2 linked regions of the Homo sapiens genome follow. The protein of the gene in region 2 interacts with the protein of the main gene of each other region in a pairwise test. Each region holds a gene or a part of one and is shown on either strand. Other genes may lie near its edges.

Region 1 (3,653 bases), on a different chromosome or scaffold from region 2:
AGGCACCTGCCACCACCCCCAGCTAATTTTTTGTATTTTTAGTAGAGATGGGGTTTCACTATGTTGGCCATGCTGGTCTCAAACTCTTGACCTCAGGTGATCCACCTGCCTCGGCCTCCTAGAGTGCTGGGATTACAGGCATGAGCCACTGCGCCTGGCCAAAACAAAAATTAAAAAAAAACAAATAAAAATACAACAATTAGCTGGGTGTGGTGGCAGGCACCTGTAATCCCAGCTACTTGGGAAGCTGAGACAGGAGAATCACTTGAACCCAGGAGGCAGAGGTTGCAGTGGGCAGAGATCACCCCACTGCACTCCAGCCTGGGCAACAAGAGTGAAACTCCATCTCAAAAAAAAAAAAAATTAACAAATGGGAGGGAGGGAACAAATCTCCCACGCAGAATAATTCCAAATAATTTATGTAGATACTGCACCCTCAAGCAGGTGGTGAATACGTCCCTACCCCCAGGTGTGGGCTATGCATAGTGACTTCCTGCCAAAGAGCACAGCGTGGGAGGAGGAGAAAGAGCAACGTCACAGCAGAGGAACCTGGAAACACTGCCCAGCCAGGTGATCAAGGTCAACTTCAGCAGTGGAAAGTCCTGGCTGTGCACAGTGGCTCACGCCTGGAATCCCAGCACTTTGGGAGGCTGAGGTGGGAGCACTGCTTGAGCCCAGGAGTTTGAGACCAGCCCGGGCAATAGGTGGGACCCAAAGAAAAGTCCTGATGACAGTATATCCAGTACGTGCCCTTGATATGACATGATAGAAATGGCACTTTACTTCTGTGGTCCTCCTCTGAACAAAACCCGTAACCTCAGTCTAATTAGGAGAAAAACATCAGATAAATCTCATGATGTTCTACAAAATACCTGACCAGTATCCCTCAACATTGTCAAAGTCATCAAAAACAGGGAAGTCTGAGAAACTGTCACGGCCAAAAGGAGCCTGAGGAAACAAGGGGACTCGATGTCATACAGGATCCTGAAGCCAAAACAAGACATGACGGAAAAGCTAAGGCAGGGCGCCAGGGCTCACACCTGTGATCCCAGCACTTTGGGAGGCCAAGGTGGGAAGATCACTTCATGTCAGGAGTTCGAGACCAGCCTGGCCAACATGAGAACCCCGTCTGTACAAACGAATTTTAAAAATTAGCCGGGCATGATGGTTCATGCTTGTAGTCCCAGCTACTCGGGAGGCTGAGGCAAGAAGATCACTTAAGCCCAGGAAGTAAAGGCTGCAGTGAGCTGTGATCATACTACTGCATTCCACAGCGAGACCTTGTCTCCAAACAAACAAAAAGGTGAAAATATAAAGATCTTAAATGTTTATGGGTAAGCTTCAGTTATCCAAGTTCAAATATGTGTAAAACCTGATTTCCTGTGCCTAGCAAAGAAATAAGGTGGTGTTATCTTCACATCTGGTGGCCAGTATGGTAGGTATTGAAATTTAGTTATTAGTTCATTAAACAAACACTTTAGTCTCTTACGTGCTGTATCAGGGATGGGCAAACTATCCCTGGAACACAGGTCAATTCTGGCCCATAGCCTATTTCTGTATGGCCCATAAGCTAAGATGGTTTTTACATTTTTAAATGGTTGAAAATAACCAAAAGGACAATAGTGATTGTGACTCATAAAAATTATACAAAATTCTAATTTCGGTGTCCAAAGATAAAGATTTCCTGGACGAACATGGTGGCTCACGCCTGTAATCCCAACACTTTGGGAGGCTGAGGTGGGTGGATCACTTGAGGCCAGGACTTCGAGACCAGCCTGGCCAACATGGTGAAACCCCATCTCTACTAAAAATACAACAATTAGCTGGGCATGGTGGCGCACACCTGCGATCCCAGCTATGTGGAAGGTTGAGGCACAAGAATTGCTTGAACCCAGGAGGCGGAGGTTGCAGTGAGCCAAGATCTCGCCACTGCACTCCATCCAGCCTCAGTGGCAGAGTGAGGCCCTGTCTCAAAAAAAACAAAAACAAAAACAAAAAAGGCCAGGTGCGGTGACTCACGCCTGTAATCCCAGCAGTTTGGGAGGCCAAGGCAGGCTGATCACTTGAGGTCAGGAGTTCGAGACCAGCCTGGTCAACATGGTGAAATGCTGTCTCTACTAAAAATACAAAAATTAGCTCATGTGGTGGCACGAGCCTGTAATCCCAGCTACCTGGGAGGCTAAGGCAGCAGAATCACTTGTACCTGGGAGGCGGAGTTTGCAGTGAGCCAAGATCATGCTACTGTACTCCACCCTGGGTATCAGAATGAGACTCCATCTCAAAAAAAAAAAAAAAGAAAATCCAAAAAACAAAGATAAAGTTTTCATGGAATGCAGCCACATCCATTTACGCATATATTATCTATGGCTGTTTAGTCCTATGTGGCAGAGATGAGTAGCTGAGATAGAGACTGGCTGGCCCTGGAAGCCTAAAATATTTACTCTGTGGCTGGGCGTGGTAGCTCATGCCTGTAATCCCAGCCCTTTGGGAGGCCAGCAGGTGGATCACCTGAGGTCAGGAGTTTGAGATCAGCCTGACCAATATGGTGAAACCCTGTCTCAACTAAAAATGCAAAAATTAGCCAGGCATGGTGGCGGACGCCTGTAGTCCCAGCTACTCTGGAGGCTGAGACAGGAGAATCGCTTGAGCCCAGGAGGCGGAGTTTGCGGTGAGCCAAGATCACGCCATTGCACTCCAGCCTGGGCGACAAAGCAAGACTCCATATCATGGAAAAAAAAAAAAAATTTACTATGTGATGAGCCCTGAAAGTGGGTGACATTTCCCCGGATGACGCACAGGAGGAGTGAGTGTCTAAGACAGCATCTTGGGGAACATTAAGGTTTACGCAGCAGGCAGAGGAAGAGAACATCAGAGGAGACTGAGAAGGAGTAAGTGATGGCCAATGGTCAAGCAAACCCCAAATACGTCCATCGGATTCAGTGACAGTGACCACAAGTGGCCTGCGTCTTTATGTCTTACCAACCCATCCAAGGTGGCCTGCAGTTCCTCACACAGCTTCTCCAGTTCCTCGTTATATTCCAGACACACCTTTTCTTCATTTTCCTTCGAGGCTGGGCTGCTGCTGTCTAGTTCTATCTTGTCTTTATTCCTAAACAAAATAGAAAATAATGTGTACAAAATATACTCTTTAAGCTTGCCTTATTTCCTTATAATAAATTCTACAAACCTCTATATCCACATAGTTACGTGGGACATTTTGCATAAGCATTGTTCTTTCATATCATTATGATACAAATGCAGTTATTATTTATATGTGCAATGAATATGTCCATTGGTCACTCAATTTTGCACCAAAATAAGTCAGTTAAATTCAGCCATGTGACAGCCGGTTTTGGTGGCTCATGCCTGTAATCCCAACACTTTGAGGGATGGACGCGGGAGGACTGCTTGAGTCCAGGAGTCTGAGTCCAGCCTGGGCAACACAGTGAGACCTCATCTCCACAAAAATTAAAAGTAAAAATTAGCTGGGCATGGTGGGACACGTATGTGGTCCCAGCTACTTAGGAGGCTCAGGTGGGAGGATCACTTAAGCCCAGGAAGTCAAGGCTGCAGTGAGCCATTATAGCACCACTGCACTCAGCCTGCACAAAAGAGCAAGACTGTCTCAAAAAAAAAAAAAACACCATTCAGCG
Region 2 (3,653 bases):
AGCTTAGTCTGTCATTCTTATAACCTCTTTCCTGAGTCTCATCTTAGATGCTTTTGTCTTAGATATCAGTCCATTGAACCTTGTCTTCATTGGACATTAGATAAAACAATTCCAACCCTAGCCAAAGATGAATTTAAGGTGACTCCACTGCAGGGTGTAGTAGTATCCTAAGTGCATTCCAGAATTTCCTCCAGAATATGTAGAAAGAATGAATAAGACCTACTATTTGATAGCACAATGGGATGACGATAGTCAATAATAACTCAACTGTATATTTTTAAATAATTTAAAGAGTGTAATTGGATTGTATGTAACTCAAAGGATAAATGCAGATTTTTTTTTCTGCAAAAAACATTGCAGATTTTTTTTTCTTCGGTTAATAGGCCCTGGTGGGAAGAACCTAGTCTTCTCTGAGTCAGAAAGGGGTCTTTTCCTGGCTCATTCTGCACTCAGCAATCCCTCAGGTTTGGACTCCTGGAGGTCCAACCTTCACCCTGGGATCTGTGCACCTGTGATCCATAGCATCTTCCTGCTGATAAGGCCATTCTGCCCTTGTGAAGTTGGGTGTCTAAACCTGTTCTCGGACAATGGTGCTGTGCCATTCATCCCAGGAGCCCTCCCATGTCAGGCCTACAGCCTCGAGACACTCTCAGCAGACCTTTGGCCTCCGCTGCAAAATCCTATCCCTATAAAGACTCCTTCAGAGCCTCTCTGGCCAGTCTATATGCCACATTTACTCTCCTCTGCAGAGCAGACTCGAGGGGTTTACCCTGAGCCCAATCATGATATAGCTCCTGCTAGCTTGGCTACCAGGAACGCTTGCTTCCTCACATGCCTGACTCCCACTCTGTCTCATGCCCAACCACAGCCATCTCTCTTGAGAATGTTGTTCTTTTAGAATGTTGTTATGTGCTGATTTGTGTCTCCCCCAATTCACATGTTGAAGCCCTAACCCCCTCTCTACCCCGGTACCTCAGAATGTGACCTTATTTGGAAAGAGAATCTTTAAAGAGGTAATCAAGTTGAAATGAGTTCATTAGGGTGGGCCCTAATCCAGAATGACTGGTGTCCTTATGAAAAGGGGAAATTTGGAGATAGAGAGACACACAGGGAGAACTCCATGTGGAGATGAAGGCAGAGACCGGTGATGCTGCCACCAGCCAAGGAGCATCAAGGAAAGTCCACTGAAAACCACTGGAAGCTCAGAGAGAGGCAGGGGACAGATTCTCCCTCAGGGCCTCCAGAAGGAACCAACCCTGCTGATATCTTTTTTCATTTTTGATTTCTGTGGGTACATAGTAGGTGTATGTATGCATGGAGCACATGAGATGTTTTGATACAGGCATGCAATGTGAAATAAGCACATCATGGAGAATGGGGTATCCATCACCTCAAGCATTTATCTTTTGAGTTGCAAACAATCTAGTTATACTTTGTTATTTCAAAATGTATGATTAAGTTATTATTGACTATAGTCACCTTATTGTGCTGTCAAATAGTAGGTCTCATTCATTCTTTCTGCCTTTTTTTGTTTGTTTGTTTTTTGTAACCGGCCTGCTGATATCTTGGTCCTGGACTTCTGGCCTCCAGAACTGGGAAACAGCAGGTTTCCGTTGTTTAAGCCATGCGGTTTGTGGCACTTTGTTATGGCAGCCCTAGCAAACTAATGCAAGTGTGTTTATGAGCACTAACACTGTGAACATTTGGAAATAATAAGAGAGACGGATTTCCACTGTTACTTCCTCACACTTTTTTCTGAGATTGGATCTATTTCCTGGCTGTTTAGATTCAAATAGCATTTATTTGTATCTACTATTTGCATTTACTATATGTGAGAATTTTTCTTTTTGACACTAGTTTATATCACCCTCCGAAATAACCTCATAAACCATTGTTCTCATCACTTGCCAGATGAGGAGCTGGGATTCAGTGAGATGAAGAGACTGAGCCAGGCCACCAGCTTGGAAGTGGGAGAGCTAGGATCAGAATTCAGGTCTCTTGTTTCTGAATTCAGGGCAGGGTCCATTGTGCTGTGCTGCTAAGCACGAATGTAGTACCCTCCCCCCACCCCATCTGCCTTGGGCTTTTCTGAAAATATTAACCATTTAGCGTGGGAGCCTCCTGCTAGCATTTACAAGGCTGAGTCCTGCAGCTCTGCGGTGCTTACACTGCCCTCTCCCTGTGCTGAGTGCCCGTGCTGCTCCAATCTCCATCTCCATAGAAAGGGTTGCAGGAGGTGCCCCAGGTGTCACCTGCATCCCAGTCACCTGACAGGCCCATTAAACAGGAACAGTCTTTAGGCAGAATCATATATTTTTTTCTGGTTTCAAATGCAGTGCATGCTCCTAATTAAACATTTAAAAAGCATAGAAAAAGCACACAGAGGAAAATAATGCCTCTCTCAGCATTTAGGTTTCATCTTTCAGGTCCCATGAAGACGATGCTGTATTTGCATCTTATACGTGAAGGTGATGTTTAAAGTTCCGGATGGGGGGATGGGAAAAATTCCTCAAACTGCTTGGAAGCTCAAAAACCAAGAAAAATTATATTTGTTCATTTTTGTATTTAGGAAACTATATGGAGGTAGTGGGAGCCCAAGTCTAGTTTGAATGGAGGAAGAGAAAGGGGGAAAGGTCATGGAGAAGTAAAGGGATTTTTCTTTTTTTCTTTCAATACTGGGCAAATATACTTGAATTCAGGCAAATTACATACCAGGTAATTACTGTAGGTGATTCCTCCATGTTTCCCTCTTACCTCCCCCTCAAGCCCCCACAACAGGCTCAGGCTGAGTATGCTGTTCTATATTTTTCCTAGCTGTTTTCTGGGATTTAGTCTCTTTATGGGTTGTATTAGTCTGTTTTCATGCTGCCGACGAAGACACACCTGAGACTGGGTAATTTATAAGGAAGAAGAGGTTTAATGGACTCACAGTTCCATGTGGCTGGGGAGGCCTCACAATTATGATGGAAGGTGAAAGGCACATCTCACATGGCAGCAGACAAGAGAAGAGAGCTTGTGCAGGGAAACTCCCCTTTATAAAACCATCGGATCTCATGAGACTTATTCACTATTATGAGAACAGCATGGGAAAGACTCACCCCCATGATTCAATTACCTCCCACCTGGCCCCTCCCACAACACGTGGGAATTGTGGGAGATACAATTCAAGATAAGATTTGGGTGGGGACACAGCCAAACCATATCATGGATATAGAAACATGGCTGTGTGTGTGTGTGTGTGTCTGTGTGTCTGTGTGTATGGCTGGGTGTGTCTGTGTGTGTGTGTGTGCAGGGACCAGCTTTCTGAGTCTCAAATGCCCTTGAGGTCAGACAGGTTGGCTGCCCAGAGCTATGGCTGGTACCACTCCATAGGCTTCCAGCTCTAGGTCTTTGTGTCAGATGGGATAGGTACCTAATGTCTGCCTACATCTCACCATGTGGCTTCTGTGTAATGAAGCAAAACCAAAAGTCTGGGTAGGTTTTTCTTAATCTAACACAATCTGCTTTACAAATGATGCCAGCTTCTCCTAGATTCTGGGATTAGGTTGCCTACCAGTCTTCACTTGTGGTGATGTTGTGAGTCTTGGTCTTTTTCTATGTCTTCACAGGCATTTTAGTGGGCAGTTAGGCAAAGCTGATGCCCTTTGGCCTGG

What was found. The genes of interacting proteins can lie anywhere in the genome.
Region 1: the proteins of BAALC (region 2) and CINP interact in a two-hybrid assay, tested with the Homo sapiens proteins (one study listed by BioGRID).

Annotation. Positions count from the first base shown.
Region 1 is NC_000014.9:102,352,789-102,356,441, forward strand, and holds part of CINP (cyclin-dependent kinase 2-interacting protein), read right to left. Parts: intron 3,110-3,653; coding exon 2,980-3,109; intron 1-2,979. UniProt on the Homo sapiens protein: Component of the DNA replication complex, which interacts with two kinases, CDK2 and CDC7, thereby providing a functional and physical link between CDK2 and CDC7 during firing of the origins of replication.
Region 2 is NC_000008.11:103,147,111-103,150,763, forward strand, and holds part of BAALC (brain and acute leukemia cytoplasmic protein), read left to right. Parts: intron 1-3,653. UniProt on the Homo sapiens protein: May play a synaptic role at the postsynaptic lipid rafts possibly through interaction with CAMK2A.